Regions from separate parts of the Homo sapiens genome. Here all the other regions are linked to region 3. The links come from fine-mapping of genetic effects on gene expression. A gene starts in region 3. Each other region holds a variant in brackets. All regions are shown on one strand. Distances are from middle to middle.

Region 1 (2,666 bases), 47 kb before region 3:
AGTCCAAGAGCCCACCCTTAGCAGGCGAGGTGAGGAGGGGCACGCCGAAGTGGAGGGGTCATGTGTGAGGGTCACAGCTGTGAACAGGGAGGGATGGGGCCACGGGGAGCAGTGTGGCATTCGCTGACAAGAGGGAGGGGTGAAAGGGCAAGGGCCAGCCTGACAGGAAAGGCGGCTCCCAGGGAGACAGGCAAGGAGGCCACAGGGGGCTGTGCTGGGGTGGGGCACCGTCTCCTCCTCCCTAGGCCCGGAGCAGACCCTGGGGCAGGGGAGGAAGGGGACACCGCACCAGCCAGGGCCCTCCCCAGACAGGGACAGCAGCCCTGCAGGCAGGCTGGCCCCTCACCCTGCCCAGAGCAGGACTCACGCCGTCCACCGCCTCCAGGTCCAGGCGCAGCTGACTCTGCAGCGAGTGCAGCTTCGGCAGGGGAATGGTGCCGATGTCCCCACAGCCCCGCAGCCCCGGCAGTGTGGAGGCTACGCCCAGGCCCTCCAGCTCCTCCTGCAGCTGCTTCACCTGTGCCTCCACCTCCTCCTTCTTCTGCAGCGCCAGCTGCCGGTCGCTATCGGCCACACGGGCACGCTCCTTGGCCTCCTGCGCCTCTCGCTGCCAGGCATCGCAGACCTGAAACCCAGGGCCCGTCTCAGCACCCCCCACCTCACCTGTGCCACCTGCAGACCCTCTTGCCTGTGTCACCAGCGATCCTCCCCTCCCCTCCCCAGCATCAGCTGTGGCCCCCTCACCTGAGACCCCTGCGGCCCTCCCTCCCTCCCTCCCTCCCTCCCTCCCCCTCCCGTCTCACCCCCCACACGCTCACCTGAGTCACCTGCGGCCCTCCCTCCCTCCCCTCCCATCTCACCCCCACACGCTCACCTGAGTCCCCTGCGGCCCTCCCTCCCCCTCACCTGTCTGGCCCCCCCACACACTCACCTGCTTCACCTGCTGCCAGGACTCCTCCCACTGCCGGATCTTCCTCTTGGCCTCGTCCAGCTGCCGCCTGACCCGGGCCAGCTCAGCTCCGTTTGGACTTGCACTCGAAGAGGATGGGGGGCCGGCACTCAGGATGGGGGAGGGGCTGGGGGAGAAGCTGCCGGAAACAAAGTCCCAGATGCTCCCGGGGACACCGTTCAAACCTGAGTGTGAAACGGTCGATGACGGCCCAGCCCTGCTGTGCTCGCGGCCTGGTGGGATTGGTGGGTGCTATGCCCCAGGCCCCACCGCTACGTGGGCACCCTCTGGGGCTCACCTGCCCTGGCAGCAGGGGTGCAGCCACGCCTGCCCCTTGCCCCACTCCTGGACCCCACCAGGCTCAGGAAGAGGCGCTGACAGTGACACCTGCCCCGGCCGGTCTCCCCACCAGATCTACGCCTTCCTGGCCACCTGAGGAGTCTAAACAGAGAGGAATTAAATTCAAGTTCCTGGGACCACACCATGAGGTGGGAGGGGCAGTGGTTCTCAGACTCCACTCCCAGGAACCCCTCACACACTGAGACTCTCAAAGACCCCACAGAGCT[G/A]TGTCCATGTGGTGACTGCCAATGTCTATGCAGCTTTAGAGACTATGACTGAAATAGTTTAAATGTTACTTAAAAAAAACAGGCCGGGCGCGGTGGCTCACGCCTGTAATCCCAGCACTTTGGGAGGCCGAGGCGGGTGGATCATGAGGTCAGGAGATCGAGACCATCCTGGCTAACAAGGTGAAACCCCGTCTCTACTAAAAATACAAAAAATTAGCCAGGCGTGGTGGCGGGCGCCTGTAGTCCCAGCTACTCGGGAGGCTGAGGCAGGAGAATGGCGTGAACCCGGGAAGCGGAGCTTGCAGTGAGCCGAGATTGCGCCACTGCAGTCCGCAGTCCGGCCTGGGCGACAGAATGAGACTCCGTCTCAAAAAAAAAAAAAAAAAAAAAAAAAAACAGGCCTGTCATCCCAGCACTTTGGGAGGTCGAGGCCAGCAGATCACTTGAGGTCAGGAGTTTGAGACCAGTATGGCCAACATGGTGAAACTCCATCTCTACTAAAAATACAAAAATTAGCCTGGCGTGGTAGCAGGTACCTGTGATCCCAGCTACTCGGGAGGCTGAGACATGACAATCATTTTAACCCGGAAGGCAGAGGCTGCAGTGAGCCAAGATTGCTGGAGCCTGGACGACAGAGTGAAACTTTGTTTTAAAAAAATAAAAACTTTTAAAATTTTGTATTTTTTTGTAGACTCAGGAGTCTCACTATGGTGCCTAGCCTGGTCTTGAACCCCTGGCCTCAAGTGACCACCCACCTCGACCTCCCAAAGTGCTGGGATTACAGGCTTGAGCCACTATGTTGGCCCAAAGTATTAGTTTTTTTTTTTTTTTTTTTTTTTTTTTTGAAATGGAGTCTAGCTCTATCGCCAGGCTGGATTGGAGTGCAGTGGCACAATCTCAGCTCACTGCGACCTCCGACTCCCGGGTTCAAGCGATTCTCCTGCCTTAGCCTCCCAAGTAGCTGGGATTACAGGCATGTGCCACCACGCCCGCCTAATTTTTGTATTTTTAGTAGAGACGGGGTTTCACCATGTTGGCCAGGATGGTCTCGATATCCTGACGTCGTGATCCGCCCACCTCGGCGCCCCAAGTGCTGGGATGACAGGCGTGAGCCACCACGCCGGGCCTTTTTCTCTTTTTTTTTTTTGAGA
Region 2 (2,651 bases), 65 kb before region 3:
AGGTCACTCTGAGGCCAGGGACGTCACCCAAGGCTGGTGGTCAGTGTGAAGGGCTCCGTGCCAACTGGTCAGCTGTCCTTCACGCACATATCCGTGGCCACCTGAGACCTGCTCCACGACCCTTCCAGGCAGAGCCGAGAGTTCGCCCCAACCCTTCCCCAGGCCCAGTGTGAAAAACAGACTCACAAGGGGCTTCTTGGCCTGCAGCTTCATTTGCGAGAGCGCCGAGGCAGGACACAGAGCACAGCTGTGCTGGAAGTGTGGGGAGAACCCGGACAGCTCAGTCCTGCCAGCAGCCGCAAAGAGCCGAGGCTGCCAGGCCCATTTATGTCCCTCATGTCTCTAGATTTTCTCGTCACCCAGCCTCAAAAATATATGTGTCTGCAACCCTCAGTCTCTCTGCCGTTTCTTGATTCCTTTCCAAACCTCAGCCGGGGCCCTGGCCTCAGCCCCCCGTCCCTGCGTCTGCTCCTCTTCACAGCAGCTGCTGCTGGCTCCTCCGCGCTCGGCGCCAGGCCCTGGGTCCTCAGACGCATCACTGTCATCAGTGTCCGAGGGCAGCCTGGGAGAGGAGGGGGAGCACGTTCCCAAATGACGTCCTCCCTGGCTAGCTGGAGTCAACGTCATCCACAAAAAGCCCCCAGCCGAGGACAGATTCCTCTTCCTCCCTGTGCTCTCCACACCCAAACCTCTCCAGTGGGACATGCACTGCAGGTTTTCTAGTCAGAAGACCATCGGGGTGTTGTTTACAACACCACCCCCAGGCAGCAGGAAGGGCTCAGGCCAGAGGTAGAAGAGAGCCCTGGGTCTGAGTGATCATGAAATTAAGCCCAAGGACCTACCGGGTGCTGGCCACAGGCCTGTTGGGGTTTCCAAACTCTCTCCCTGAATCCACATCGAAGGGATCTGAGCCGAGAGAGGAAAGTGGCCTCTAAGTGAGCTCAGAGCAGGACCAGGCCTCCCACCCCCCAGGCTTTGGAGGGCCTTGGTTCCCACCCCGCCAAGGCTCACCGATCTCCTCCTCCTGGGGGCTCTCCTTGGCATTGGCCAAGAACTCCTGCTCCGCCTGCAGCACCTCCTCCGGGCTGCCGCAGGCCGCGTACTTGTCCAGGAGCTGGCGGTTCAGGTCCAAGAAGCCCTTGCCCCATTTAAACTTCCGCAGCAAAATGACAGCAAGGTCTGGAAAGCCTGACGGTGTGAGAAACAGGAAACCCAAAGAAGTCGACGGTCCCCTCAAGTGCCTCCTGATCACCCTGCTGCCGGATGGCGGCGCTCTCCCAAGTAACCGCAGGGTCCCCAGCAAACATCAGCTCACAGTCCTGAGAACCCGTGCTGCCCCCAGCCTGCACCTCCCTTGCTACAGTCCACACCTCTGCAACCGACCAAGTCCCCCTCCTTTGCTGCGAAACAAACATTCCCACCAAGACTGCCCCACGCCTCATCAGGGCCTCTTTAGATCAGCAATTCAGTAAGGAGGACGTGGAGGATAAGGAGGATTCTCTGGGCAGTGGTGCCCTGATAATGAATGGCACCCCACACACCGGCCCTGATAGAACAGCGATCCCATTCTGCCTCTACTGCAACTCCACAGGCCGAAAACCTGAAGTGACAGTTGGGGCTGGAACCGTGGTCTGTCTGAACTGTT[C/T]CCCTGTCCGTCCCTTATGCTCCTCCTGGGGTCTGTCGGCAGGAAACATGATGCTGGGAGCATAGCAGGAACAGCAGGCCGCCGGGTCACACTGCTGTGGGGCCCCTGGACTCACCTACGATGCAGAAGGTGGCAGCAAACGCTTCCACGCAGGAAAGTCTGTAGGGCCGGCCATAGTTCACGGGGTTGGCGGCCACCAGGTAGGGCAACAGGCGCAAGTGGCTCCCTCGCATCTTCCCAAACGGTGTCTCGTCCAGCCTGGCCCAGGAGCAGTCGATGACGGCGACCCCAGACTGCGCCACCAGCTGTCTGCCAGGGACAGCATGGGATAAGTTCAGGAGCCAGCACTACCCAAGGTGGAGCATGCCCCGGAGAATGGCCTAGCTAAGGGATTCAGGGACATCATTCCGCCATCCCCAAACACCCTCAAACGGACTTCACGAGCAAGCTTTTGAGGCAGCTGCTTGGGGCACCTGGAGCATGTGTTTATTCACTCAACAAACGTTTATTACCCCAAAACCTCCTTTATCCCAGGCTCTGCGCTACGCAACGGAGGCAAACTAGACAGACGTTCCCTGCCCACGTGGGTGTGGATGTGGGTGCGACATACAAGTGCCACTAAACCATCCCTGAAGGGAACCACGCGCTGGAAATGAAGACGACCTCGGGCAGGCCTCCCGCGCCTACCTGTCTGCGGGGGACGCGTACTGCTTGCCCACGGGGCTCAGCACCAGACCGCCGAATCTGTGGCCCAGGCGCAGGCAGCGCACCAGCCCCAGGCGGGCCAGCTTGCGGCCCGTGCAGCGCCGGGGGTCGCAGTGGCCCAACTCCCACATGGCCAGCGTGCAGGGCAGCGCCGCCGGGCCCGGGCCGCCCTCGCCGTCAGCCGCCCCTGGCTCCACGGAAGCTGCACGAGAGAGAGAAGGGCACTCGGCCTCAGCGTGGGACCCCCGGGCAGGCCCTCAAACCCTGACCCGCTCTCCCCATCACGCCTCGCTCACCCTGC
Region 3 (2,666 bases):
GCCGCCCCAGCATCCCTGGTCACTAGAAAATTTCAGCGTATAATTACGACTCCCTCTGCAGGGGCCAGGTATGGACACTAAGGCGTCCGCTGAGGGTCCCGGCCGCATCCCCGGGTGGAGGCCCCCCACCTCCGCCCAGGCAGCGGCGCCCCCTCGCGGCCGCTTACTCGTCGCCGTCGGGGCACACGCCGGTGGCTTCGTTGTACTTGGAGCAGTACACGTCGGGGCTGTAGTTGAAGGTGCCGTCGCGCCTGCGGAGGGGCCTGCGGCGCCGCTGGTTGAGGAAGTGCCAGTGGAAGCAGGTGAACGGCCGGTGCTGCGCGCACTTGTGCTGTGAAAACAGGGGGCACTGCTCCGTCCTGAACTCCTTCAGGTACCTACAAACACAGACAGCGCCGCGGCTCGCTTCCGGCAGCACCTCCAGGGACTCGGACTCGTGGGCGGCGGGACCCACCGGCCTCAGGAGCCTCAACCCAGGGTCGACCCGTACTCACATTCCCGGCGGGCCCCAGGCGCTGCGCCCACCCCCATCCCGACTCCAGACGCGACCCTCACCCGACCTCGTAGCCCAGGCGCTGACCCTGGTCCCCAAGCCCAAGCGCCACCCCGGACCCTGGGCGACCCGCTGTGACCTCACGGTCGGCAGCCGGAGCAGAGGGTCCCGGTCCCCGAGCCCAGGCGCAACCCCCAACCCCGGGGCGTTCCTCCCTCCCCAGAGGCGCGTGGACCCCGGAACCAGGTGCCATCCCAGACCATGGGCGCCGCGCTCCGACCTCAGGCGGAGGCCGCCGAGAGCAGAGGGTCGTGGCCCCCCCAGCCCAGGCGCTGCGCGGAGGCCGGGGGGCGCGGGGGCGGCGGAGGCGGCGCGAGCCCCGGCGGGAGGCTCCGAGCTGCACCGGGCGCGGGCGGGGGGCCGCAGGCCGGACGGGCGCTGACCTGTAGTGGGTCGGCTTCTCAGTCTGCGGGGGGGACCCGCTCAGCGCCGCTGCCGCCGCTTTCGAAACCGACGGCATTTTCAGTCAAAACAATGCAGCGCGCATGCGCCGCGCCGGCGCCCCCGCCCCCGGATATCCCCGCGCGCCCCCGCGGCCACGCCCCCCGCGGCCCCGCCCCCAGCCCGCAGACCCCGGCCCCGCCCCAGCCCCGCGCCCCCCGCAGCCCCGCCCCCGGCCCGCAGACCCCGCCCCAGCCCCGCGCCCCGCCCTGCCCTGCCCTGCCCTGCCCTGCCCTGCCCTGCCCTGCCCTGCCCTGCAGCCCCCGGCCCGGGACGCTGGTCCTGCCCGGGGCCGCGCGTGGGACCCGCGATGGTCGCCCCTGCTGTGACATGACCCGACATAACCGTGTATTTTACATGAATTAATCACAAGAGTTGTATCTCAATAGAGCTGCTCTTCCACAAACGAACCAAGAGGCTGATGTCAGGGGGAGCCAGGCACCGGGCGGAAGGGCCAAGGGGTCCTGGCCTTTGTAGAAAGGAATTTGTTCCATTTCGAACCTTGACCTCAAAAACTTATACTCAGAGATTTATCTACAAAGGTAATTATCACAGTTATTTTGCAAACACTTGAGGTCCCCCTTCCCCCAACAGCGCAGTAGCTGAGAAAAGGGAAAACTCTAAGTGCTCTGCGTGATTTGAAACAGTGCTTCCGAAGAATTTTTAGTGGTAGGAGGCCGGGCGCGGTGTCTCACGCCTGTAATCCCAGCACTTTGGGAGGCCGAGGCCGGCGGATCAGCTGAGTTCGGGAGTTTGACAACAGCTTGGCCAACAGTGAAACCCCGTCTCTACTAAACATACAAAAATATTAGTGGGGTGTGGTGGCTTGCGCCTGTAATTCCTGCTACTCCGGAGGCTGAGGCAGGAGAATGGCGTGAACCCGGGAGGCGGAGGTTTAGTAGTGAGCCGAGATTGCGCCACTGCACTCCAGCCTGGGTGACAGAGTAACACCCTGTCTCAAAAAATAAAAAAGAAATTTTTAGTGATATGAAAAATGTGCCCATTGGCCGGGCGCGGTGGCTCACGCCTATAATCCCTGCACTTTGAGAGGCCGAGGTGGGCGGATCACGAGGTCAGAAGATCGAGACCATCCTGGCTAACACGGTGAAACCCCGTCTCTACTAAAAATACAAAAAAAAAAAAAAAAATTACCCGGGCGTGGTGGTGGGCACCTGTAGTCCCAGCTACTCAGGAGGCTAAGGCAGGAGAATCACTTGAACCCAGGAGGCGGAGCTTGCAGTGAGCCGAGATCGCGCCACTGCACTCCAGCCTGGGCAACAGAGCGAGACTCCGTCTCAAAAAAAAAAAAAAAAAAAAAAAAAAAAAACGAAAAGAAAAATGGGCCCATTTAGGTTGAAAGCAAATCACTTCCTACAGATTTGTTCCAAGTATCTCAGGGTTTTTTTTAATATTAATACTGTAAAACAACAAAAACTATCATTTGCTGGTAGGATAAATTTCTTCATAGGTTCACATTTTCTTTTTCTTTTGGCGGGGGGCGGGGGGAGGAAGGAGTTTTGCTCTTGTTGCCCAGAGTGGAGTGCAATGGCACGATCTCGGCTCACTGTTGCAACCTCCGCCTCCTAGGTTCAAGGAATTCTCCTACCTCAGCCTCCTGAGTAGCTGCGATTACAGGCATGCACCACCGCGCCCAGCTAATTTATTTTTCGTA

Evidence for each region. PIP is the estimated chance that this variant, and not a neighbour inherited with it, causes the effect.
Region 1: its variant is fine-mapped to the expression of UNKL in whole blood (TOPMed, PIP above 0.99).
Region 2: its variant is fine-mapped to the expression of UNKL in whole blood (TOPMed, PIP above 0.99).

What each region holds. Positions count from the first base shown.
Region 1 is chr16:1,366,725-1,369,390 of GRCh38, forward strand. UNKL (unk like zinc finger) reads right to left here. Exons shown (of 15, transcript NM_001372107.1): 13 at 932-1,134; 14 at 368-625. Among named protein-coding and RNA genes, the nearest start is that of GNPTG, 16 kb to the left of the region's middle. The variant G/A (reference allele first, on the strand shown) is at 1,516.
Region 2 is chr16:1,349,047-1,351,697 of GRCh38, forward strand. It overlaps BAIAP3 (BAI1 associated protein 3), which reads left to right. Exons shown (of 34, transcript NM_001199097.2): 34 at 1-393. TSR3 (TSR3 ribosome maturation factor) reads right to left here. Exons shown (of 6, transcript NM_001001410.3): 1 at 2,647-2,651; 2 at 2,333-2,552; 3 at 1,761-1,954; 4 at 1,012-1,188; 5 at 843-906; 6 at 194-562. The coding sequence ends at 391. Among named protein-coding and RNA genes, the nearest start is that of TSR3, 1.5 kb to the right of the region's middle. RefSeq lists a silencer at 2,410-2,651. The variant C/T (reference allele first, on the strand shown) is at 1,646.
Region 3 is chr16:1,413,679-1,416,344 of GRCh38, forward strand. UNKL (unk like zinc finger) reads right to left here and starts at 1,026. Exons shown (of 15, transcript NM_001372107.1): 1 at 937-1,026; 2 at 168-377. The coding sequence starts at 1,013. RefSeq lists enhancers at 1-501, 502-1,076, 1,077-1,651, 1,652-2,225 and silencers at 21-170, 601-650, 1,191-1,310, 1,361-1,430.